Linked DNA regions of Homo sapiens. The protein of the gene in region 6 interacts with the protein of the main gene of each other region in a pairwise test. Each region holds a gene or a part of one and is shown on either strand. Other genes may lie near its edges. The genes, in order: ATRIP, TRIM73, CCDC33, CCNG2, ZNF76, TASOR2 and FXR1.

Region 1 (3,500 bases), on a different chromosome or scaffold from region 6:
GTAGCATGATCATAGCTCACTGCAGCCTTGACCTCCTGGGCTCAAGCAATCCACCCATCTGTAATCCCAGCCTCCTGAGTAGCTGGGATTACAGGCACACATCAACATGGCCAGCTAATTTTTTTTTTTTTTTTTTGGTGAGACAGGGTCTCACTCTGTTGCCCATGCTGGAGCCCAGTGGCACAATTACGGCTCACTGCAGCCTCCACCTCTTGGGCTTAGTGATCTTCCCACCTCATCCTTCTGAGTAGCACAGGGACTACAGATGTGCAACCACCACATCTGGCTAACTTTTTATTCTTTCTAGAGATAGAGTTATTTCTAGAGATAGAGTTTCACCATGTTGCCTAGGCTAGTCCTGAACTCGTGGGCTCAAATGATCTGCCCACCTCAGCTTCCCAAAATGCTGGGATTACAGGCGTGAGCCACTGGGGCCAGTAATTTTATTTTTTTTTTAAGTAGCAATGGGGTTTTGCTATGTTGCCCAGGCTGGTCTCGAACTGCTAGCCTTAAGCAATCTTCCTGCCTTAGCCTCCTGTGTAGCTGGGATTGCCTCTGTAGCTACCATGCCTGGTGCAAAACATCTTTTCAATGTGGAACAAACTATTTTTTTTTCTGGAATGGAGTCTTGTTCTGTTGCCCAGGCTGGAGTGCAGTGGTGTGATCCTGGCTCACTGCAACCTCTGCCTCCAGGTTTGAGTGATTCTCCTGCCTCAGCCTCCCAAATAGCTGGGATTACAGGCGCATGCCACCATGCCCAGCTAATTTTTATATTTTCAGTAGAGACAGGGTTTCATCATGTTGGCCAGGTTGGTCTTGAACTACTGACCTCAAGTGATCTGCCCGCCTCATCCTCCCAAAGTGTTGGGATTACAGGTGTGAGCCACTGCACCCAGCCAATGTGGAACAAACGATTTTTTAATAGTCACAAGACTTCCAGGCTGGGCACAGTGGCTCACCCTTGTAATCCCAACAATTTGGGAGGCTGAGGTGGGTGGATCACCTGAAGTCAGGAGTTCGAGAGCAGCTTGGCCAACATGGTGAAATCCCATCTCTACTTAAAAAAAAAATACAAAAAAACTAGCCTGGTGTGGTGGTATGTGCCTGTAATCCCAGCTACTTGGGAGGCTGAGACAGGAGAATCACTTGAACCCGGGAGGTGGAGGTTGCAGTGAGCTGAGATCATGTGACTACACTCCAGCCTGGACAACAGAGTGAGACTCTGTCTCAAAAAAAAAAGACTTCCAATAGAATGCAAAGACTTTAAATAGAAAAAGGGCTATCAAAATAAATATCATAATTTTGATAAACCTACTAGGTATGTTGAAAACTGAGCAACTTAGTGCCAATGTCTTTATGGTAGAGAAGCAGTATTAACTCTCTGATCTGATCATATAATGCTGAGGTCTTTCTGTTACTGATGTGTGAAGAGGATCCCCTCAGTTCTCTTGTCTTATGTGGACAATGCAAGGCATGGAGAGTTCAGTTTCACACACTGCCCATTATGAACAAAGGCGGTAGAAAGTTCAAAACCAGAAGATGCCCTGACTGACACTGTTCAAATTTCCAGGCTGCGCCAGGCACAGTGGCTCATGCTTGTAATCCCAGTAGTTTGGGAGGCCCAGGCTGGCAAATCATTTGAGTCCAGGAGTTTGAGACGAGCCTGGCCAACATGGTGAAACTCCGTCTCTACTAAAAATACAAAAATTAGCTGGGCGTGGTGGTGTGTGCCTGTAGTCCCAGCTACTCAGGAGGCTGAAGGAGGAGAATTGCTTGAACCCAGGAGGCGGAGGTTGCAGTGAGCCGAGATTGTACCACTGTACTCCAGCCTGGGTGACAGAGCGAGACTCTGTCTCAAAAAAAAAAGAAAAAAAAAACAAGTTGAGCACATCTGACCACAAAGGATGGGGCTGTTGGACAAGGGTCCCCAGAAAGCAAATGAGAAAAAAATATTCCAAGTAGCTGGAACTAAAATACACCCATGCTTGCAACAAAATCAGTTAAACAAATTACATAAAAGTAGAGACTAGCCCACCCCCAAAATTTGGAGATCATTTTTCCAGGTCTTTCTAGTCCTGAAGAATTATGTTTATAAAGTGCCATACAGAGGCAGCATTTCTAGAGTATAGGCCTTTATGCTGTGATGTCTCAAACCATGCAAGCTTCATCTAAACCACCTCTGAATCCTTCAGGAAAAGAGGATCTCTGCCCAGGTGGAGGGGTCTAAATGGCCTTCATTTAGGACCAGCCTGACACTGTTATGCAGATTTTTTACTAAATAATGCAAAACTGAACTATCCCTCCAGCACCATCATTACCTGACATGGGAAACAGAGGGAGCAGCCAGTTTATTTGCTCGTTCACTGGTCTGGAGCTTTGTCCTTAATTCATTCATCTCTGCATCTTTAAACTGGAGTTCAGACTGCAATGATTGGAGCTGGAAGGCAAAAGAAACATGCTTGTAGTGGTCCCATCATATACACAAAAATATCTCTGGGCTTCAAAATCACAAGCCAGTAAAAGACAAACAATGAAAAATACATATGAAAGTCTGCTGTGACATAAATGTCCTAAAATATTAAACATTAGCTTTCTTTCTGAAAGACAATATGGTACTCTAAAAAGATACTGGACTCTATTGTAAGGGTAGTTTGTGAGGGTTTAAATACCAGCCCTGGCCGGGTGTGGTGGTTCAGGCCTGTAATCCTAAGCACTTTGGGAGGTTGAGGCGGGAGGATCATTTGAGCCCAGGAGTTCGAGACCAGCCTGGGCAAAATAGCAAGATCTTGCCTCTACAAAAAATTTAAAAAATAAAAAAAAGAATTAAATACCAGCCCACCATTTATTTAATGTCTTTGAATCCTAACTTATTTGTAACATAAAACACCTGTCTTCATGATAGTTGGGAGGATTAAGTAGAATGATGAGTGTAAAATACCCAGCATAGAGCTTGGTAAGGTGCCCTATGTCAGCAGTAACATATTGACCTTTATTAACGAACGCACTGGTGCACAATTCCAGGTCTTCCTCAAAGTTTGGGCAGAGTAGTTGGAATAGTTTACCAAGACACTGTGCAGTATAGAGAGACCTGCTGCTCTGGCCTGCAGTTGCTACAGCCAACAGTAACTGCCATCATTCCCCAAGCACACTCTGCGCCAGGCCCAGCACCAGACACAGTAAGTGCAAGAATGTGTGAGTCTCCCAACAACCTTTCTGGTTATGTCTTGGAACAGATAAGGGAAATGAGCCAGGGAGCTTAAGTTATTACCTTGAGGTCACTGCTTATGTGTGATGAAGCCTGGATTCAAATTCAGGTTTGTCTGACCGCAAATTCCTTGCTCTTCATCACTTATACAGAAAGTTAACTATTGCGGTTAATGATGGGCACAGGTAAGTGCTTAAAGTTTGCTAAGTTTGCTGAATGAAACAATGAGAATAAGATCCCATGTCCTTGAGATTGAAGCATGAGGAGGTGCTGAGGGAAAGTTGTAGTAGGTACT
Region 2 (4,145 bases), on a different chromosome or scaffold from region 6:
TGAGACCCAGAACTCTACACTTATAGGTGACACTCCCAGGTAATTCTAGAGAGCCTGGAACCTACAAGGCCTCTACCCTGATCTCCCACCTGCTCCCCTATGAAAGCTTGTCAGTGAGACAGAAGAAGCACCAGAAGCCCCCAGCGAGAGCCCGACATTGGAATACCTAGCTTCTCAGGATCCACTGGGCCTCCCACTATGGCCTCAAGCCAGCATCACTGGCTTTTCTTCTTCCCAGCAGGGAACAGCAGGCACAGAGTCAGAAGTGGGAAGTGCAGCTGGACGCCTGCACCACTGCCTGGTCTCTGCCCCTTCTCTCCTCCCCTTCCCCAGCAACACCCCTGTGTCCCCAAGGTCACCAGAATCAGGTGGAAACTGGGTTACATCACAGGACTGGGGAGGCAGCCTTTGTTGGGCCTGCTCTGATAACATTCAAGTGCTGGCCTTGGCCACTGTGGAGGAGGGGCAGAAACAGAGGGACTGGGTACACCGTCCACACCTCATGACCCCAACAGGAGCAGATAGGTGCTGGGAAACAGTTCTTTCTGAATCTCAATCTCTTGCTCTTATATCCTTTTTTGGGGGGGGTGGGGGGCTGGGGGGCAGGGGAAGACAGTGTCTTGCTCTGTTGCCCAGGCTGGAGTGCAGTGGCGTGGTCACAGCTCACTGCAGCCTCCAACTCCTAGGCTCAAGCCATCCTCCTACCTTAGCTGCCTGAGTAGCTGGGACTACAGGCACATGCCACCATGCCAAGCTAATTTTTAAAATTTTTTTTGTAGATACCGGGTCTTGCTTTGTTGCCCAGGCTGGTCTTCAACTTCTGGGCTCAAGCAATCCTCCCACCTTGGCCTCCCAAAGTGCTGGGATTACAGGCATGAGCCTTATTGCACGCAGTCTTCCTTCTCTCTCTCTTTTTTTCTAATACAAACTGGCAGATGATGGTTCGATCTCTCGAATTTTTTTTTTTATTTTATTGTTTTATTTACTTTAGTAGAGACAGGGGTCTCACTTTGTTGCCTGGGCTGGTTTTGAACTCCTGGCCTCAAGCAATCCTCCTACCTCAGCCTCCCAAAGTGCTGGGATTACAGGTGTGAGCCGCCGAACCTGGCCTCTTTTTTTTTTTTTTTTTAAAGATTTGAAGGTATCTTTATTTACTTATTTAGATTTTTTAAATCGAGGTATAACATATACAAGTGTGCAAATCTTAACCACACAGCTTGATAAACACTTGATGTATATACGTGCACTCTCAAGAGCAAGATGTACAGTGTTTCCAGAAAGCTCCCTCCTGCCTCCTTCCAGTCATAACTCCTAACAAGGACAGCCACTGTCCTTATTACCATGTTGTCATGTGGCCTGTTTTTGAATGTCACATAAACAGCATCATATAGAATGTACCCTTTTGTGTCTGGTTTCTTTCACTCAATAATATTAAATTGTGAGTTTTTTTTTAATGTGAAGTCTTTCAACGTTTAGAAATTCAATGACACTCTGTTATACAGGTTTTGTTTGTTTGTTTGTTTATTGAGACAGAGTTTTGCTCTTGTTGCCCAGGCTGGAGTGCAGTGGTGCAATCAGGCTCACTGCCACCTCCACCTCCCGGATTCAAGTGATTCTCCTGCCTCAGCCTCCCAAGTAGCTGAGGTTACAGGCGCCTGCCACCACACCGGCTAATTTTTTGTATTTTTAGTAGAGAGGCGGTTTCATCATGTGGGCCAGGCTGGTCTCAAACTCCTGACCTCGAGTGATCTACCCACTCTGGTCTCCCAAAGTGCTGGGATTACAGGTGTGAGCCACCGCGCCCAGCCTGTTACACAGTTAATGAATATTATGGTCATAATATACTGCTGTGGTTTGAATGTATCCTCCTAATTTCATGTGTTGGAAACGTAACCCCCAATGGGGCAGTATTGAAAGTTGGCTGTAGCCTACGCCTATAATCCCAGCACTTTGGGAGGTCAAGACTGGAGGATCGCTTGAAGCCAGGAGTTCAAGACCAGCCTAGGCAACAAAGCTACAAACCATCTTACCAGCAAATTAAAAACTAAAAAATAAATTAGCTGGGCCTGGTGGTGCACGTCTGTAATCCCAGCTACTTGGGAGGCCGAGGCAGGAGGATCTCTTGAGCCCAGGAGGTGGCGGCTGCAGTGAGCTGAGATCCATCACTGAACTCCAGCCTGGGCTCAGAGCGAGCCTCTGTCAATCAATCAATCAATCAATCAATCAGTGTCTTGTCTGGGCCTAAATTCTCTAGAATACAATGGAAGAGGGAAAGTGAAAGAAGGTGGAAGTAACCCACAGCTGGGAGCCCTGAACCCTGCTGGTGGCAGGTGGCTCTCGTGTCCTCACCAGGTTGCCCTGCAATCACATGCTGCATCCTTTTTCCTGAACCTGCCCCACGTGCCCCACCACGCAGCCACTCCGAGGGCTCCTTCAAGGGCGGCAGCCCTGTCACTCACGTGTTCCAAAAGTGCTTCCCCTGTGCCCTGACGGCCTCGCCATGTGTCCCATCACGCCCCACGCGCTCCCACTGTGCGCCCCACCTCGCACCCGTGCCCCATCATGCTCTGCGTGCTCGTTAGGTGCCCCATCATTTCCCGCTCGCTCTCATTACGTACCCAGCCTCCGGCCCCTGTAAGTGCCCCATCGTGCTCTCTGTCGCTCCAGTTAGATGCCCCATCCTGCCCCGCGAGCTCCAATTACGTGCCCCACCTAACCCCCCATGTCCGTGCCCCATCATGCCCCGCACGCTCTGGTTACATGCCCCGCCTGGCGCTCCCGCACATGCCCCATCATGCTCAGCGCGCTCCCATTACGTGCCGCCACCTCGCGCCCCTGCAAGTGCCCAATGTGCCCTGTGTGGTCCCGTTACGTGTCCCATCATGTTTTGTGCGCTCCGATTACGGGCCACACCTGGCAACTCACCGTGCGACCTCTGTAGTTCCAGAGCTCGCGAGGGCCAGGGCCGTTGGCGGCGGTTGGAACGAAACGATGAGTGCCTCCTCGTGGCCCCAGAATGTAATGCCGCCGTCGGTAGGGGTCTGCCGGGCATAAAGGGGCCTTCGGAACCCCACCAGAGTCACAGCCAGGAAGGGCAGCGGGGCGCACCAGGCCGAAGGCTCACGCCACAGGGAGGGCAGCTAGGACATGGGGGGAAGCGCGTTAAACCAGGGAGTCCTGGAAGGGGACGACGCCCCCGGCCAGGTGAGGGCCCAGACGTTTCGGGGGCGTAGACGCTGAGGGGTGGCCGGGTGGGTCTGCGGCTCTGAGGCCTGGCTTTCATTCTCCATCAGTCCCTGTACGAGCGGTTAAGTCAGAGGATGCTGGACATCTCGGGGGACCGGGGCGTGCTGAAGGACGTCATCCGAGAAGGAGCTGGAGACCTAGTGGCGCCTGATGCTTCGGTGCTAGGTACGCCCTGGGGCGGTTTGTCCGCAGGATCCATGTCATCGCACTCTGTTGGGAAGAGAGAGGCCTCATTTTCAAAAAGCATTTAATGGGGTTGGAAATGCTTTGTTTGAAGTGGATTTTTGTTTTTGAAACGGGGTCTCGCTCAGTTCCCCAGGCTGGAGTGCAGTGGTGCGAACATAGCTCACTGCAGCCTCTGCTTCCTGGGCTCAAGTGATTCTCCAGCCTCAGCCTCCCAAATAAGAGATTTACAGGCGCAATCCACCATGCCCGGCTAATTTTTAATATTTTTGTAGAGATGGGGCACTTTCTATGTTGCCCAGGCTGGTCTCAGACTCCTGGTCCCAAGTGATCCTCCCACCTCAGCCTCCCCAGTAGCTGGGATTACAAGCGTGAGCCGCTGCTTCTGCCATGAATTAGTTTTTTTAAGAGGAAAGCTAAGGAACCCTATGTCCCCTTTGCGTGATGCTTCCATGAAGCTCTTGAACCTCTGAGCCGAAGGGTAGGCTCCTAAAATGCAGAGAGATTTATTCCTGTACCTCGTGGTGTCGGGCAGCTTAAGCTCATCTGATCGCATTGTTTCTGTGTGATCATGAGAGACTCGATATTATGGTGGCGTGGGTGTTTTGGGTCCATTTTCCTTACATTCTTTCCTCTATTCTAGTGAAATACTATGGATACCTGGAACACTTGGACAGACCCTTCGATTCTAATTACTTTAGGAAAACTCCTCGGCT
Region 3 (3,500 bases), on a different chromosome or scaffold from region 6:
TGAGTCCCCACTGCCTCCCCAGTCAAACTGAGCCACCTCTGGGCCTTGGAAAGCTCTGCCCCTTCCCGCTTGCTGCCTTCGCTCCAGTGTTCTGCTCCTGGCCTGTCCTCCCTGACTCCACTCCTGCACCTTCTCCCAACCCTTTAAGGCCTCCTCCTCCCTGCTGTCTTCCCTGACCGCCTCAGCCGGCCAGGGCTTTGTCTTCTCTCAGCAGCTCTCGTTAAGATGGTCCTTTGGGCCATGAATCCACAAGTTACTAAGCTGCTGAGTCCCTGCTTGGGGCAACTGGTGTAGGAAGCCCCCTGCATGGGCAGGCACCTCTTCCTCCCTAGTCCGCAAGTTTCCTGGGTAGAAGACAGGTGGGGCATCTGGGACAGACACATGCATTCACCTCCACGTAATGCACTGAATGCCCCCATGAACGTGGAGAAGCTTTGTCAGCTGTAAAGTGCTGTGCACAGGAGGGACCTGAGGTGATGGGTGAGCTGAGGTGAGGTTACAAGATAGACTGAAGAAGGTGGCCCATTGTTAGGACTGCAAAAGCAGGTGGGATTTAGGAATTACAGACGAGGACACCTGCGAAAGCTAAGGCTTAGAAGTGGGACCAGACTTGAAAGGTGAGGTGGCCTGTCTCATCCTGCAGGAAGGGTAGGATCCAGGACTAGAGGAGAGGCACTGAGAGAGACGTGGGATGGGGACAGAAGTAGGGAGAAAATGGGGCCAAGGCGACTGCCTTGCAGAGTGGGCGGAAGGGTGACAGAGGGAGGCAGGCACTTGACGGAAGCTGTGAGTGGCTAGTGCTAGAGGGTGGCAGTGAAGGGAGGTGCCGCAGCAGAGGAGGCCACTCAGGGCCAGGTGCAGTAACTCATGCCTATAATCCCAGCACTCTGGGAGGCCGAGGCAGGCAGATCACCTGAGGTCAGGAGTTTGAGACCATGGGGAAATCCCGTCTCTACTAAAAATACAAAAATTAGTTGGATGTGGTGGCACATGCCTGTAATCCCAGCTACTGTGGAGGCTGAGGCAGGAGAATTGCTTGAACCTGGGAGGTAGAGGCTGCAGTGAGCCAAGATGGCACCACTGCACTCCAGCCTGGGCAACAGAGCAAGACTCTGTCTCAAAAAAAAAAAAAAACACTCAGCCCTGGCTCTCCCCACAGAACACTGAAGACCCAGAGGAGCCCCTGATCGCCTCCCAGAGCACGGAACCTGAGATCGGTCACCTGTCTCCCTCTAAGAAGGAGACCATCATGGTCACCCTCCATGGGGCTACCAACCTGCCTGCCTGCAAGGATGGCTCCGAGCCGTGGCCCTATGTGGTGGTGTAAGTAGCTGCGTGAGAGTGGGGGCAGGGGATGGGTTGGGCTGTGAGCAGAAACCAGGGGACAGCTATTTGGAATACTAGCACCCAAAGGCCCAGGACTGGGACTGTCATACCCAGAGGGGAGGAGCTGCTGTGGGCACTACCTGGCATCTCCGCTGCTGCATGGGAAGCTGCTCACCAGGGCTGGGGAAGACAGGGTGCCAACGGATCCAGAGAGTCACCCCTCCCCACCCCACACCAGTGGGGCAGGGATTGGTCACAGCTCAGCTCCAGTGGGGCAGGTTCCTTGTATGCAAAAGTCTGGGCTGGGCTCATGGGCATGATGGTCAGATTGGGGAAGGGGAAGATTTGGGACCTGCCTCTCCTGACTTCTGGGTGCCCCACCCCACCATACCCAGCCCTGGGGTAGGGTCCTCATAACCACCCTCCCCTCCTCCCCTCCTTCTCCAGTCACTTCTATTATGGGGACTCCCCTAGTTCTGGGCCTTTAATGCACCCCACACACCCCCTCCAGCCAGCTGCTGTCAGGGTACACACTTCCCCAGCCTGGCACCAAGGCCTGCCACGCCACGTCTATGCCCACCTCACGGGTCTCACTTCTTCCAGAAAGGCGCCAAGGGGCAACACAATCTCCATCCAGCCAACCTTCGCTGGGGACACTGAATATTTGCTCAATCTTTATTATAAAGCACCCTCCAAGGAGCATGTCACCCCTAGACCTTCTATAGACAGACGGCGGGAGCCTTGGTGGCCTCCCACCAAGCCACCCTATACTTCCCCTCCCCCACCAATACTGGCACCATTCAGTTCCTGCCAAGAGTCTGTTGCCCACATTTCCTTTTGGGGAGTGCCTGCCCCAGCCCACTCACCAATGCCTGCTGAAATCCTGCCTTCAAAGCCTCCTCCTCCAGGCAGCCACCAGAGTTGAGCTCTCCCTCTTCTGGAGCTCCACAGCAGTGGTGACCCTGGTCTGAAGCACTTTATATCAACATGGTTTATGCACTCCTCTGGGGCTCCCTGAGGACGGATCTCCTCCTCCATTTCCCTCAACAATGCATCCAACATAGGCCTGAGCCCAAACTTAGGAGCCAAGGAGTGACTGAGGCCAACACCTGGTTACTATGATAAGTCCCTGCCCCCCCAGGGCCCCCACTGTGAAAGGGGGGTAGAAGCTGTGCCGAGAGCAACAGGTGAAACACTTGCCTTAAAAGCCCCATTTGTGCCAGCCCAGCTCCTCGGCCATCCCTCCCCCAACTCCATTTCCGTGGTGAGGGAAGCACAGGTGGTGGGAGCAGGCTTGGCAGGGAGGCTGGTTTCTAGCGGGGAGCTCGCCTTCTCCGCTCAGCTATTTCCATAAACCAATTATCGCCGATCATCTCGGGAGATTGAGGCCCTGACTGTCACCAATCCGGCCTGGGCGGCGGGGCGGGGAGCTGGGTGGCTGTGTGGCTCCTAGGCAGGCACCGCGACCCGCGCCATCACCCGGTTGCCATGGGAACGCGCGGCAGGAGCCTAGGCGACACGAGCCTGGGTGGGGGTTCGGAGAGCCGGGCACACCCCGAGTCCTCCTGCACCCTCCCTGTGGCTGCGGCACGTGGGGCGGGAGGGTGGGGACAGAGAACGCGGGGAGGGGGGAGGGGAAAGCACTTCGCTGCACCCTTCTCCAGCTGGGAGCAGCGCCCGGGCCAGGCTGCAGCCTGCGTCCCAGGGCTCCAGACAGGCGAAGCTGCCACCAGCTCGAGGTGGTGCTAATGAGATGCAAATGATGGGAGAAGGAAGGGCTTCTGAGAATGTGAAGGCCGAGCTGTCAGGACCTGAAGGGGGCTTTCAGTGCTCACCCCCAGCCCCAGGCAGAAACCCCAGAGGGAGGATCCAGACCCTCAGAGGCCATAGAACCTGGAAAGAATTTATATCCCTGCACATCTGATTACAAATAAACAAGTAACAAAGCACACAATAGGCATAAGAAAGTTCATGAAAGTTTTCGTTTTGTTCATGATGAATATTTCAATGCTTTTTAAAAATATGTATTTGTGAAGACTTCAATGTAAGACCTGCAACTGTAACACCCCTAGAAGAAAACACAGGGGAAAGGCTCCTTTACATTGGTCTTGGCAATTAATCTTCGGATATGACACCGGAAGTACAGGCAACAGAATCAAAAATAAGTGAGACTG
Region 4 (3,500 bases), on a different chromosome or scaffold from region 6:
TTTCTTTTTTGTTTTTCTTTTTACGTATTTTTTTCCCTCCTCCTTCGGAATGCCTTCAGTTTATTTCAACGAATCAATTTTCACTGAAGATGGTTCCAGCTATCACTATCAATAAAAAGTTCAGATAAAAACTAATAAAATCATAACTAAAGCAAAAAGTTATCTGTTACAAACAAAATGCTTCACATGCACATATTTTCACCAGAAAACAGAAGATCTATTTTCTTGGCTTCCCATTTTCACCTAATGTAGCTACATCCTAACCCACTTGTAATCTGGTTTCTACCACTTCCTTCTCACTGCTCTACTGACATTACCTCTGACACACCCAATGACCTTCAATTTTCATTATATTGGATCTCTTATAAAAATTCAATACTCCTGACCACCTCCTTAAAAACCTCCTTCCAGTCTGACAGTGCTTCTACTTGTGGGGATGTACCTTTCTTCACTTGGCTCCTAATGTTGGGGGGAAAGGCCAACGCTGAAAACCCCAGAGCTTCAACTGACCCCTACAAAAAGGATTCCACAGCTTCTTACCGTTTCAACTACTGCTTCTTCATGAGAAATTCCAAACCTCAATCTCTAACTATAGTTTATCTTCTTATTCCAAAACGCCAAACACCTACTAGACACCCACCTGTGTACACAAGCATCTAAAATCATATTGCTCTCATCACAAATTAACTTCTCCCAAATTTCCTGCCAATTATGCTAATATTATATCCACCATTAGGTACAAATCTTGGTCATTCAAGACTCCTTGCCTCATTTCCATGCTTGGCTTCCAAAACCACTGTTTGAGTTGGACAGCCTTACTCCTGCTTGTGACTACCACCTAGACATTGTACCTGTAAGTCTACCCTAAAATGACTTTTATATCTGTCTAGTCCACCAATTTCTTGGCCGTTAAGCCTTCGCTGAAACTTTCACTGTCAAAGATTCTTTTGCTCCAAACAGGCTCCCAGTCATAGTGTTTCTCCTAGTCTGCCCTATTTCTTTGCTTAAAAAAAACCCAAAGTAAGCCGGGCACAGTGGCTCACGCCTGTAATCCCAGCACTTTGGGAGGCCAAGGCAGGTGGGATCACTTGAAGTCAGGAGTTCAAGACCGGCCTGGCCAACATGGCGAAACCCCATCTCTACCAAAAATATAAAAATTAGCCTGGCATGGTGGTGAGCACCTGTAGCCCCAGCTACTCGGGAGGTTGACGCAGGAGAATCACTTGAACCCGAGAGGCTGAGGTTGCGGTGAGCCAAGATCATGCCACTGCACTCTAGCTTGGGCAACAGAGCAAGACTGTCTCAAAAAAAAAAAAAAAAAAAAAAAAAATCCCAAAGTACTCTCTATATTCACTATTACCTGGCACCAAGACACAATAACAAATGACAGAACACACCACTTCATGTTAAGTTCCTCATTTCCCCAACTAGACTGAGAGTTTAAGAAAAAGTATTGTGCTTTTGTTTTATATCTCTTTGTGATGGTAAGACTTACTTTTACTTAGCTGGCCTAAAGGATTTGAAAAGACATTCGGGTTTAAAACATCAACATTGCTGGTGTTAATTGATGCTGCTGCTAATGGGATGACAGTTCAGTCCTACAGGTGTGATGGGATCCCATCCTATCCCATTAGTGTTTGTTCTGAGTCTACTACCTAGTATGCATTTCAGAACAATGCATATGTGGCAATGTAACAGCTGTACTATCATATGGCATGATTACTACAGAAGGGGCACCTATATGCAGAAAGAAGCTGAGCTAAGTGACCAGGTTCCCTTCCGGATTAATACTGTCTGGGTCAAAGCTGCATTTTGAGAACTTTAACACTAGAGATATAAGAAAAAAAACAAGTGTAAAAGTTAAGAGTCCCATAAAGTATTACTTAATGTTTAAGTCACCACAGAAAAAAATAAACATCAGGAAAAAAATTTGCCTTAAAGAATAATGACTGTAATTACCTTGGAATGTTTTTTAACTAGCAAGAGAATTTCCAGTAATTCAACAGATTTCAAAGTTTCCACTTCCAAATTGAGAAGGCACAAGGCTAATACAGATGGCTGTAAGAAAAAAGAAAAAAAAGAAAAATATTTTTTAAAAATTCAAAATACAAACTGTGAGATATATACATAAGCAAGGAATCGACTTACTTTTGCTTTTGAAAAGATGAGTCGGCAGTTGCAAGCTTTCAGCTGAGCTTCTAGTTTATCAAGGCTCAGTATTTCTTTCCTATACAATGCAAAGAACAAAGATTTATTAAACTTCCAAAGATTTAAATGATTTTAAATGATTTTAAATATTTGCCAGGGCCAGACGCGGTGTCTCACGCCTGTAATCCCACCACTTTGGAAGGCAGAAGCAGGTGGATCACCTAAGGTCAGGAGTTCGAGACCAGCCTGACCAACATGGAAAAACCCTGTCTCTACTAAAAATATAAAATTAGCCAGGTGTGGTGGCGCACGCCTGTAATCCCAGCTACTTGGGAGGCTGACGCAGGAGAATCGCTTGAACCCGGGAAGTGGAGGTTGCAGTGAGCCGAGATCACGCCATTGCACTCCAGCCTGGGCAACAAGAGCGAAATTCCTTCTCCAAAAAAAAAAAAAAAAAAAGATTTACCAATAAAGTCAAAGTTGAAAGTTTGAAGAAGGTAAAAATATAAATTTCATTGCCATTCCAATTATTTACTGTTAGCTATAGCAATGTTCAAAGTACAAAATGTATCTTTAATCCCACTGACCTTTCTGAAGTATGACAAAGTATAATAGTATGGTATAAGTGCAAAAAGTTTAAGGCAGTAGTAGCTTCCAATTCATAGTGCAATTTTTCTGAAATTATTTTTTCCATCCGTTTTATGTCAGAAGCAGTACATTTACACTGACTAATCCGGATCACATCATGAGTGGATGGAATATTGCAGTCTTCTTCAACTATTCTAGCAGCCAGCAAAAAAGAACAGACTCCAATGCAAGACAAATGTTTAGGTTTCACCTGAGAAAAAAACAAGAGGCTTCTTTTAACAACTGTCACTTTGACTTAGCAGATACTTAGAATATTGTAATGATGCTCCTATTCTTAAGACAGAACACAATCAAGTTGTTTCTCTTATATGTACTGGCTCTTTACCCACAATTATACACATTTTCACATTTTAGACGTTCTCGACCTCCCCCCCCCCCCAAAAAAAAAGGCAGCAGGGAACAGTGGCTCATGCCTGTAATCCCAGGACTTTGGGAGGCTGAGGTGGGAGGACTGCTTGAGGCCAGGAGTTTGAGAACACTCTGGCCAACATAGCAAGACTATTCTGGCCAACACAGCAAGCCTCCATCTCTATTTAAAAAAAAAAAAAAAAGTTTTTTGAACCTTTAAATTATGTAAATTCAAATGCAGGTACAAAAATTTCCATGCAGGTTCAAAAGCTAGATTCCTAGCACTAAAGTATAATTTGTATTTCAGACTTATGAAATTCATAATATAATCTCTCCCAAAATAAATTAAGCTTTTT
Region 5 (3,500 bases), on a different chromosome or scaffold from region 6:
GCCCACCAGGCAGGTTACCTGTGGCAAAGGCCTTTCCACAGCTGGGGAAGTCACATCTGTATGGACGGTCACCTGTATGAGCTCGTTCATGCACCTGTGAGGACAAGCAATCACATAATTCAGAGGAGCAAGGGTATGACCAGGGCTCTTTGGTTTTCTTTAGGACCCTGATTCTCTTCCCTCCTGTACCATTCATGTGTGTCAAGCGCTCTGTGCTGGCATTCCTGTGTACCCTCATTTCTTCCCTCCAGCAACGTGAGGGCAGGGACCAATTCCAATCAAAGCAGAAAGGTAGAATTACAGCCTGGGAGGGAAGACTGCAGAGCTGACGGCTGTCTGCCAGCAACCTTACCTTTAAGTGATGAGCGGTGGTGTAGAGACGCCCACAGCCCTTGTAGCCACAGCGGAATGCTCTGTCTCCAACTTGCTGCCCTTTTCCATTACGGGGAATCTGGCTGTCATGAAGAACCTGGGGGAAAAGTCTTGAGATCCCTATATGTATTCTCCCCAGTGAAGAAGGTGGGACACAGGGCCCTGCTGGCAGCTTAAGACCCAACAGGCAGGGTTAAACCTGTCAGGGGCCTCTGGGGCAGAAGAACATAACTAGACGGACAAGGAACAGATGCTGGGGCATGCTACAGAAGAAACAGGGTGGGCATGGGGAGTCACCACCCATCTCTGATGGGATAAAGGGAGACCTACAGGTCATAGTGGCTGTGACGGCTATTGAAGAAAGGCTATCACATAGACAGCTAGGTAAGGTGAAAAGGGAGGTTGTCTGAATGGCCATGCTTGAACTGGACCAAGTGCCAGAAACCCTCCTTCTAAGCACACACACCTAGGAGCCTGCAACTCTCAAGACCTCCATCTTCTGATGGGAGGGGTCCCCTTCCTCCTGGCACGAAACTAGTGCTTAAAAGTACATAAACAAGGGGGCTTGCTGTGGAGATGAGCTCACCTAGGTTCATCTGATAGGACTTGGGGCCCAGAGTGAGGTGGCCACGACCAGAAGCACCCAGGGGAGTGCTGCAGTTTCCACCAGAAATGTCAGCTCTAATGACAGCACCCAGCTGACAAGTCCTCCCCTTTTGTCTCCTCTTCTGGGATATTGCTAAAGCCACCCATCTCACACCAGCCTCTGGATGCAGGGAGCCCTTATTGCTCTTCTGCTTTCCTGGGCAGGGTCCTGGTGGGACTATCCCTTAGTCTTTCTTTCTAGAATGCTTCAGAATCACACTCTGGTCTTTCCAGGAGCTCCTGAAACTGAACTCTACAAGTTACAGTGAGCAGGGGACAGAGGGGTGAGGCCAAATTCATGGCAAGGTCTGTCTAGTTAGGCTCCAGCTCAGAGGCTCAAGCAGCTGAGAGCTTCACGGACACTTAAACAGCTTCTGGGTAGAGGGTAGGGTCAGAGGTGGCCTGACCTGCTTGGCGGGCTAACCCACACAGGCACTTGGATTTCATTCCATGTCTCACTAGCTCCTGGGGTAATCACGGGAATCAAGGGACATCAGGGATGGAAGTGACCTCTGAGATCATCTGGTCCCATCTCATCATATTAGGAATAAGCTGAGGTCGAGGAGAGGAGGGACTCACCCAAGTTTGGACTAGGTAGAGGTAGAGCAAGCATAGATCTCAGGGCTCATGATTTAAATAAAACCCACTTCTCTTTACATCAACATCGAGTCTCAAATTTGGTCTCTAAGATATACCTCAGGGAACCTGGGTGGGAGTGAATGTAGCCTACTGTAAAGTTTTGTGACTTTTTTTTTTTTTTTTTTTTTTAGATAGGATCTCCCTCTGTTGCCCAGGCTGGAGTGCAGTGGGACAATCTCAGCTCATTGCAGTCACCGCCTCCTGATCCTCCCACCTCCGCTTCCCAGTAGCTGGGACCACAGGTGCGCACCACCATGCCCAGCTAATTTGTTTTTGTATTTTTGTGTAGAGATGAGGTTTCGCCATGTTGCCCAGACTGGTCTCAAACTCCTGGACTCAAGCGATCCACCTGCCTCAGCCTCCCAAAGTGCTGGGATTACAGGCGTGAGCCTCTGCTCCCGGCCTGTGCTTCATTTTGAAAAGACATGAGGACTTCCTTTTTTCCTCCATCATTCAGTCACACTGGTTTCATTATAAATAAAAAACCTCCCCCATCTTCGGGTAAAACTGCTGGAAGGAAGGAACGTGCAGGAAGCCCTGGCACATCCAGCCTGAGGCTCTGTAGTCATTCCAGGAAGGGAACACCCTGGTTTGGAAAGCTCAGAGATGTCTGTACCCTTTTCCCCACATGCAGGACCATGGTTTCGGCAGAAAGAACTTGGACTGACTGGTATTTGCAGAGCCAGGACCCTTTTCCTTTCCAGCTGAGCTACTGTGTGGGCCTCATAATCCAGGAATCCCAGCTGTTCTGTTGCACATGCCCTTGTCATAGCCCACTGAGGTTAATTTTCCAAATGACTGAGTCACAGAGAAGAAATAAATACAATTACCTCAGTGGACTAGAAAGCTAATACAAGTCACTGGCAGGGCTTTCCCAGCTAGTGCAGAGGATTACTACAGCAGCCAAAGTGAAGCTGGGCCTAACTCCTCAGCATAAGGATGCCACTGTTTCTTATGGCAGCTTTCCCTCTGCAAAGACAGCGTAAACAAAAGTGAGCGTAAACAGCTGTCAGCGGCCAGGCCAGGCTGTGTTGCATGCCCTAGACAATGATGTGTGACAGGTGAGTTGGGGGAGCTGGGGTGGAGGGGCAAAGGGAATATCCCACATGGTGCCCAAGCACAGGGCTGCCCTTGTCCTCTTGAGAGGTGAAGTTCTGGCAGGGCCAAGAGGCAGTGCGCAGGCCAGGCCCGGTTGTCTAGAGTGACAGACCGTGTCACGCTGTGCGTGCTCACCTTGCTGGCATACTGCTCCAGGGCCACCACTGCGTCTGCACTGAAGCCCTCATCATCCTCTGCTGCCAGGTCCTCCAAGCCCACCTCTGTCTGTACGGCCAGGATGGTGCTCTCCGATGGCACAGCCACAGGGTGGTGAATGTAGGCAGTGGAGCCATCTTCCAGTTGGACGGCTTCCAGGGTGCTGGGGTCATAGCCTTCTGCAGGGAACACGCGGTTAGCCCTGATGCCACACAAGGGGAAGAGATACAGCTGGGACCCTAGCTTTAAGTTAATGAGAGATACATATACCAAGGAGGGTTTCAACATCCAATTTCTCATGGCCCTTCACTTTGTGATTCACTCTTGCTGGCCCTCCTTCTGCAGCTGTCTCACCTAAGGATGAGGTCTCCTATGGTACACTAAATGGGAACTCACAAGCTCCTTGAGGACCTGACAGGGGCCCATCATCATTTTGGCTTAGATGACCACAATAGCCTCCTGACCAGTCGCTCCTCACCCCCTCTAGTTCCCTCCAGGCAGCACAACATCCAGAGGGATCTTTGCGGGACACAAATGTGACCATGTCACTTAACTGCCTCAACAGTTTAAATGCTTCCCACTGGTCTCAG
Region 6 (3,201 bases):
CTTGGCAAGCCTTTCATGAATTTCGAGTGGGCCTTATTGCGTTGTATATTTGTAGAGCAATGCACATCTATACTTCTCATACCTTGTGGGCAGATAATCGCCAACTTCATTAAAATTAGGTAGCAGCCAGAATTTTCTTGGTTTCTTGCTTCCCTGAAAATTCTATCACTACTAGGAAAATGTGTTAACTCAGTATGTTTAAATTTTTAGCATTTCTGTCTCTGCTCGACTCCCGTCTCTCTAGTTTTCATCACTTACATTCTCATGCTTGTTGGAGAAAACCCAAATCACACCCATTCCCATAACCCTAGTGATAATCACTCTTAACATCATGAATTAATTTCCTTTCACTTTTTCCTGTATAAATTTTTTATGACATCATACTGAACATAGTTACATGATACCAACTTTTATGCCATCCCTCTTTCTATGAATAGAAACTTTTTACATGCTTCTATTGTGTAAGTTTTGGGTGGGCATTATTTTGTATAAACTTTAAAATATTTAACTGTAGTCTGCATATCTCCCTCCTAGAGATGGAACTGAGGTTGGTTTTGCAATGACTGATAACCACCTAGAATTTTGGGTAAATTCCACAAAAGGTCAAAGGATATGAAGAGTTTTCTAATGAGTTCTCAATAATACATAACGCCTGTTACATAATGCCAGAGTGGTATAATATGAAGAGCATACTGCAGCGCCAACAGCAGTGAGTACGGGCATGTACCACATAATGATGTTTCAGTCAATGACGGACCACATATACAATGGTGGTCCCATAAAATTATACTACTGTAATTTACTGAACCTTTTTTGTGTTTAGACACACAGATACCACCATTGCATTAAATCTGCCTACAGTATTCAGTACAGTCACATGTACAGGTTTGCAATCTAGGAGTAGGCTCTACCATATCAGTTTGTGTAAGTACACTCTATGTCTGCACATAGACAAAATCGTCTTATGACGTTTCTCAGGCTGTATCCCCGTCGTTAAGTGACATGACTTTCTCTACCCAAAGCCCTAGAAGTGCTAGATTGATTTATGCTTATTTTATAGGTGTGCTGTGGTACATCAGAACCTTAAATGTGCTTCTCTACTTACCGAAGTTGACGTTTTTCCCCTCAAGTGCTGGTTACTGAAGTCCGCTGTGAATGGTCATACCCTTGACCTGCTGAAGCCTTTGCACCCTCCTTTCCTGCCAAGGAAACCTCTGTGCTCCTTCTCTCCTTTGCTAGCTCCACTTCAAGAGAAAAGCTTTCTGAGATTCTGTTCCTCAAAGGTCACATACAGCTAACAGTCGTTTCGTCTTTCTGGGATTGAAACCCAGCTTCATAACTTACTACTTGTTTGACCTTGGTCATGTTTGTTATCTACTCTGCTTCAGTTCTGCATTATAAAAGTGAGGATTTGCTATCTAGCTCCTGGGGATGAAGTCTGAATGAAAATGGATGCACCTAACAGTGCCTGAAATCCTTATTTCACAAGGGCTTGTCAGGTCTGCTTTTCCAATTGGTCCTGCTTGTGAGAATGTGGAGGAATCTCTCAGCCCCAGCTCTCTTCAGCCAAGGAATCAAACATGTATTTTTTTCTTTTATAAATTACAGCTTTAGACTTAGTGAAGTTTGCGTATTTATAAGCCTCTTCTTTTAGGGTACAACTGAATTAAGGATAGATTATGGTCTTAATTTTTCCATTCTCCTTAAAGTGGTGGCAACTTATAAGTATCCAAAAAAGCATTAATGGTACAAGTTCCATATATTTTTTAAAGTTTGTAGTAGTAGGGCTTAAATAGAATATGGACATTTCATGACTGCTAAGTTTGACTCCCTTACTTCTGTTAGTCTAGATAAGTACATGCCTCATACTGTTGGCTACGGTCACAGCACATAGCTTCCTTCATTGAATACAGAGCCAGCAGCCCTCATGCTCTTTACTGATGAAGGCCATTCCACTGCAGCACTAGGCTAGAGCCCATGGAACATGAGGCGTTTCTCTGCTACCCCAGCAGGGCAGGAGGAACCATACACACAGCAAGTCCTTACCTTTCATCTTCTTTTAGCTTTTTATTTTCCCTGTAGTGAAGCAACCACTTCCATCTTCCATTTCCATTTAGTTTTTCCAGGATTTTGATAATTTCCTTCAGTTGAACTACAAAACAATAAATGTAGCAAAAGAAGATGACAAGTTTAAGGTACTTTTGGCTCATGCCAAGCCCAGTGATAATTATTTGTAAAACAAGAAAAAAACAGACTAAGACCCATGGTTGAGTACACACCATCACTGTCACTTATGTGGTTGGGCAGCATCCTGCTCTCACAAGCCCCTCAGCCTGGTCCCACCTGCTCACACTATGGTGGGAGATAACTCTGTAGACACGAACACAGTGGAGTGGTCACCAGCAACTAGAGTTCTGTGTACAAATTGTGTGACAGAAGAGAAGCAGGAGGCCCCGATGCAGTAGAGAAATGAAGTTTCTAAATACAGAATCCTTTTTTTTTGAGACAGGGTTTCGGCTGTCACCCAGGCTGGAGTGTGGTGGCATGATCTCAGCTCACTATAGCCTCAACCTCCTGGGCTCAAGTAATCCTCCATCCTTAGTCTCCTTAGCTGGGACTACAGGCACACACTACCACAGCTGGCTAGTATTTTTATTTTTTGTAGAGATGGGATCTCACTATGTTGCCCAGGCTGGTCTTGAACTCCTGATCTCCAGGGATCCTCCTGCCTTGGCCTCCCAAAGTGTTGGGATTACAGACGTGTGCCTACAAATATTTAAAATCCCAGGTTCTGTGTAGAAGTCACACTGGTTAAGGTACATGCTGCTTTTGATCTAGAAGTGGTATCACTTCCAATGTGATCAGAGCCGGGGCAGGTTTTATACATAAAAGTGCCCTGAGAGAAGTAAAGTATGAGTTTTCAAGTAGATGATTAAATAAGCTGACTTAGTAGCCATTTTTTAGATTTTTGTGACATCAAGATGGTAGGGGTGTTGACATCAGAAATGGAGAAGGTTGACTTTAAGCAAACAATTTAATATGGAGCTGCTCTGACTTGGCAAGTGAAGAGACTAAATATAATAAAATCCTGAATTTGTGTTACTAGGAGCTTAGCTGCACTACCGAGAGGGAGGGAACTCAGAAGCAAGTGTGGTGGTAAGAATCAGTTAAAAGAGGTGAAAAGCATTGCTATAAGAGAAT
Region 7 (3,500 bases), on a different chromosome or scaffold from region 6:
CCTGCTGTCACGCTGATGTCGGCTGTCTCGATCATCTTCTCCTGCCAATGACCAATCACTCAGCTCGTCTTTACGCTCAGATTCCGTTTCAGAGGGGTTAGACAGCTCAGAATTTGTACCTTGGAAAAGAAAAGAACATAAACCACTTAGATTTCTATAAAAAGCCTTTTAAAATGTTCAAAATTATGTCCTACAAATTATTGTTTAAATAAGCAATACTGTTTGGCTGCTTCAAAGAAAGATCCATGAAAGTTAAAATCAATCTGAAACGTACTAAGGAATAATCAATTATTATACTATTAATATACTAGTATAGTATCTACTAGTTAATACAGATTAAAAAATAAACTGATGTGCAGAAGGCCGCTCACTTCTTCAAAACCAGCAGAAGAATCCCTCACTGCAGTCTGCTAAGATGTGCTATGTCATGTAATATAGTCAAAGGTGTGACCATCTCATCAGCAAAAGGGGATAATATCCAGGAAATACAAAGTCATGGAAGTTAAAAAAAAAACTGATGTGCAGAAATGCAGTCAACAGAAAAATTACAGAAAATATACAGAACATTAATTCCTAGGTTTTGGCACCAAAAAAAAAAAACCATACAGAACATCATTTATCAATATTAGAATGTACTTAGTATGGATAGTCAAATGTTTCTGCTGATTTGGGTTTTAGTAACCTAAATTATTAGTACAATAAAAATAACTTCAATATTTGAGTAAATTAATCATATTTAGAAAACTGAATAGTTTAACTGTATAGTGTATTTCACCATAATTTCATTGATTCTAGGGTATACTTTTCACATGTTAACATCTCTGAAATCAAGATATTTCTTATAATTGATGGCATCTTTATTATAAGCTAGAAGTAATTTTTCCAGTAGGTTGTATATAAAATGATGGCATGTTTTACTAGCATCTTAAATTGCGGTTTTTGCCATTAAAAGTAACTACTTTTACTTTTTGCTTTTCTTACTTTTAATGGCAAAAACTGCAATTACTTTTGCACCAACCTAATATTTGCAATTACTAAACAGAATTTAAGGTTTCTCTGAAACAGAAGGTCTCTCACCTGACAACAGAACTGAAGCCATGACCAGTGAGACAAATATTCAGCATTGCCTTTAAAAGTTTACAGACCATTTCTAACACTGCAACTATTGTAATGGTGACCTTTCAAAAATTTATTTAAACACCACAAAGATATAATCAGAGGCCTACATTATCATTATTTAATAATTACTGTAACTCAAATGTCAGATACATATGACTCAATCACTATCATATTCATTTCCACTTGTTAGTTCTGGGATGCCACTTCTTCTTTCCCTCTTATATGACCAAATATATCTCCTTCAGGGCCTAGTTCAAATTCTAACTTCAGACCACTGCAACTAAGACAGATCTCTCCCCATTTTTTGTTATCCTAAAATCGCCCCACATCTATCACAGACTGTGCCATGTTGTTATTTTTTCCCCCTGTGGAATTACTTCAAAATTGGTCTATGATAAAGGGTGGAACTCCATCTTATATGTCCTCAAATGCCTGGCAGAGTGTATAACAATTTTCTCAACCAAATAATTTGCTGCATTATTTTGAAGTTCATTTGCTAAACTCTCAGATAAGAGTGATTTCATGAAATACCTTGAAGTTCCCTATATTTAAACTCTGCAATCATTTGAGGAAAAATGCAAACAAGAGCTCTTCAGACATAAGAAGTTTTAAGTATTAAGGTGCAGGGAATAAAATGTAAAGTTTTATACATGAAGGTGCCTCACTTCCTTTCTCCTTTAACGATAACTCTAGGATGCCTACCTTTTCTCTACATGGTGTTAATAGATGTAACTAGTCAATTATAAAAACAATTAGGTAATTAGTTGGATGTGTATTTTTCAAAGAATACATCAAATTTCTATTACTCACTTTCAATTCTTTGTTGGGATTAGAATCTCAGGGAAGGGAATTAATTTCCCCTAACATTTATTTCACCAAATGACAAAAAGTACTTTATTAACAGGATGTCATAAAAGTTGTAATGAAGGCAATTTATCTTTCCTTGAATAGTGAAAAAAAAAGCCTTTCAGAATGTTTAAGAACTTCTGAATTTATTTACAAACCTATACCCTACCTGAAAACATTACCAAAATTCAGGGCAAATGAAGAATACTTCATTCTGAAGACTCTCTCAAAAGTTCATATTGAAGTATCCTTAGAAATCCAGTGTAGTATTTATCTAACCCCGTGTCACAGCAAGTAAAGTCTTCCTTAAATTTAACCTACATATAGTATTCAAGAGACTTAGAGGGAATGTCTAAATCATAGATTTCAGCAGGTAAAACAGATATTGAGGCCGTACCCCCCAAAATTTTAATGTATTGGCTAGTGCTCAACATTACTCATATTAAATAACTGTTAATAACACATATTAAATGTTTCTGTGATAGCAAAAAGGACTCTGCAAATGTGACTAAGGTTAAGGACCTTGAGATAGAGAGATTATCCTGGATTATCCAGGTGGGTCCAAACTAATCTCACTGGGTCTTTAAAAGTAGAGAAATTTTCTAAACTACTGAAAGGGGAATCCCCGCTAGACTTTCCAGAAAGAAACGTAGCCCAGCTGACAAGATTTTAGCCTAGTGAGACCCATGTCAGCCTTCTGACCAACAGAACTATAAGATAATAAATTTCTGTGGTCAAGCCTCTAAGTTTGTGATAATTTATTACTGCAATAGAAAACAAATACTCTAATAAAATCAGGGAAACCATTTATTCCAGCCTCTCAATTTTGTAAAACACAGGTTGGTGATTCAAAGTCGTTTTTTTAAACAAGCTTTAAAAGTAATGACACTAGGCCAGGCTGGTGGCTCACGCCTGTAATCCCAGCACTTTGGGAGGCGAGGTAGACAGATCACCTGAGGTCTGGAGTTTGAGACGAGCCTGACCAACATGGAGAAACCCTGTCTCTACTAAAAATACAAAATTAGTCAGGCATGGTGGTGCATGCCTGTAATCCCAGCTACTCAGGAAGCTGAGGCAGGAGAATCACTTGAACCCAGGAGGGAGAGGTTGCGGTGAGCCGAGATTGTGCCACTGCACTCCAGCCTGGGCAACAAGAGCGAAACTCCGTCTCAAAAAAAAAAAAGTAACAAAACATAATGACATCGTGTTTTTAACCAATTTTAAAATCATATTTTCCCCTCAAACTTCTAAAATCACCTTATGAAGATGGTTTATATCATTTTTCAATGGTTGGTTGTGCTAAGCTTAACAGCTAAAAATAATCACGTTTTATCGACTCCAAGAGGCCATCAATTTTAAGACATTATTTTATGTGCCATTAAAAAAGAAAATGCTGCTAAAGTTGTAAGATGTCCAATTTAACACACATACCAACTTCAGAGATGTTATACTGGGAAATGTTTCTTATAGTTCCTATTAAACTGATAAAACTACAGTACTCATTATATATATATATATATATATATATATAAATC

The links.
Region 1: the proteins of TASOR2 (region 6) and ATRIP interact in binary tests that used the Homo sapiens proteins (3 or more experiments, as listed by UniProt).
Region 2: the proteins of TASOR2 (region 6) and TRIM73 interact in a two-hybrid assay, tested with the Homo sapiens proteins (one large-scale study listed by BioGRID).
Region 3: the proteins of TASOR2 (region 6) and CCDC33 interact in a two-hybrid assay, tested with the Homo sapiens proteins (one large-scale study listed by BioGRID).
Region 4: the proteins of TASOR2 (region 6) and CCNG2 interact in a two-hybrid assay, tested with the Homo sapiens proteins (one large-scale study listed by BioGRID).
Region 5: the proteins of TASOR2 (region 6) and ZNF76 interact in binary tests that used the Homo sapiens proteins (3 or more experiments, as listed by UniProt).
Region 7: the proteins of TASOR2 (region 6) and FXR1 interact in a two-hybrid assay, tested with the Homo sapiens proteins (one large-scale study listed by BioGRID and IntAct).

The regions. Positions count from the first base shown.
Region 1 is NC_000003.12:48,453,237-48,456,736, reverse strand, and holds part of ATRIP (ATR-interacting protein), read right to left. Parts: intron 2,438-3,500; coding exon 2,319-2,437; intron 1-2,318. UniProt on the Homo sapiens protein: Required for checkpoint signaling after DNA damage. Required for ATR expression, possibly by stabilizing the protein.
Region 2 is NC_000007.14:75,394,284-75,398,428, reverse strand, and holds the start of TRIM73 (tripartite motif-containing protein 73), read right to left. Parts: upstream 2,801-4,145; 5' UTR 2,619-2,800; intron 1-2,618.
Region 3 is NC_000015.10:74,242,826-74,246,325, forward strand, and holds part of CCDC33 (coiled-coil domain-containing protein 33), read left to right. Parts: intron 1-1,159; coding exon 1,160-1,323; intron 1,324-3,500.
Region 4 is NC_000004.12:77,160,207-77,163,706, reverse strand, and holds part of CCNG2 (cyclin-G2), read right to left. Parts: intron 2,987-3,500; coding exon 2,736-2,986; intron 2,228-2,735; coding exon 2,149-2,227; intron 2,059-2,148; coding exon 1,960-2,058; intron 1-1,959. UniProt on the Homo sapiens protein: May play a role in growth regulation and in negative regulation of cell cycle progression.
Region 5 is NC_000006.12:35,287,235-35,290,734, reverse strand, and holds part of ZNF76 (zinc finger protein 76), read right to left. Parts: intron 3,113-3,500; coding exon of another isoform or gene 3,090-3,112; coding exon 2,890-3,089; intron 483-2,889; coding exon of another isoform or gene 470-482; coding exon 353-469; intron 95-352; coding exon 19-94; intron 1-18. UniProt on the Homo sapiens protein: May be involved in transcriptional regulation.
Region 6 is NC_000010.11:5,757,838-5,761,038, reverse strand, and holds part of TASOR2 (protein TASOR 2), read right to left. Parts: intron 2,153-3,201; coding exon 2,047-2,152; intron 1-2,046.
Region 7 is NC_000003.12:180,964,670-180,968,169, reverse strand, and holds part of FXR1 (RNA-binding protein FXR1), read right to left. Parts: intron 120-3,500; coding exon 1-119. UniProt on the Homo sapiens protein: mRNA-binding protein that acts as a regulator of mRNAs translation and/or stability, and which is required for various processes, such as neurogenesis, muscle development and spermatogenesis.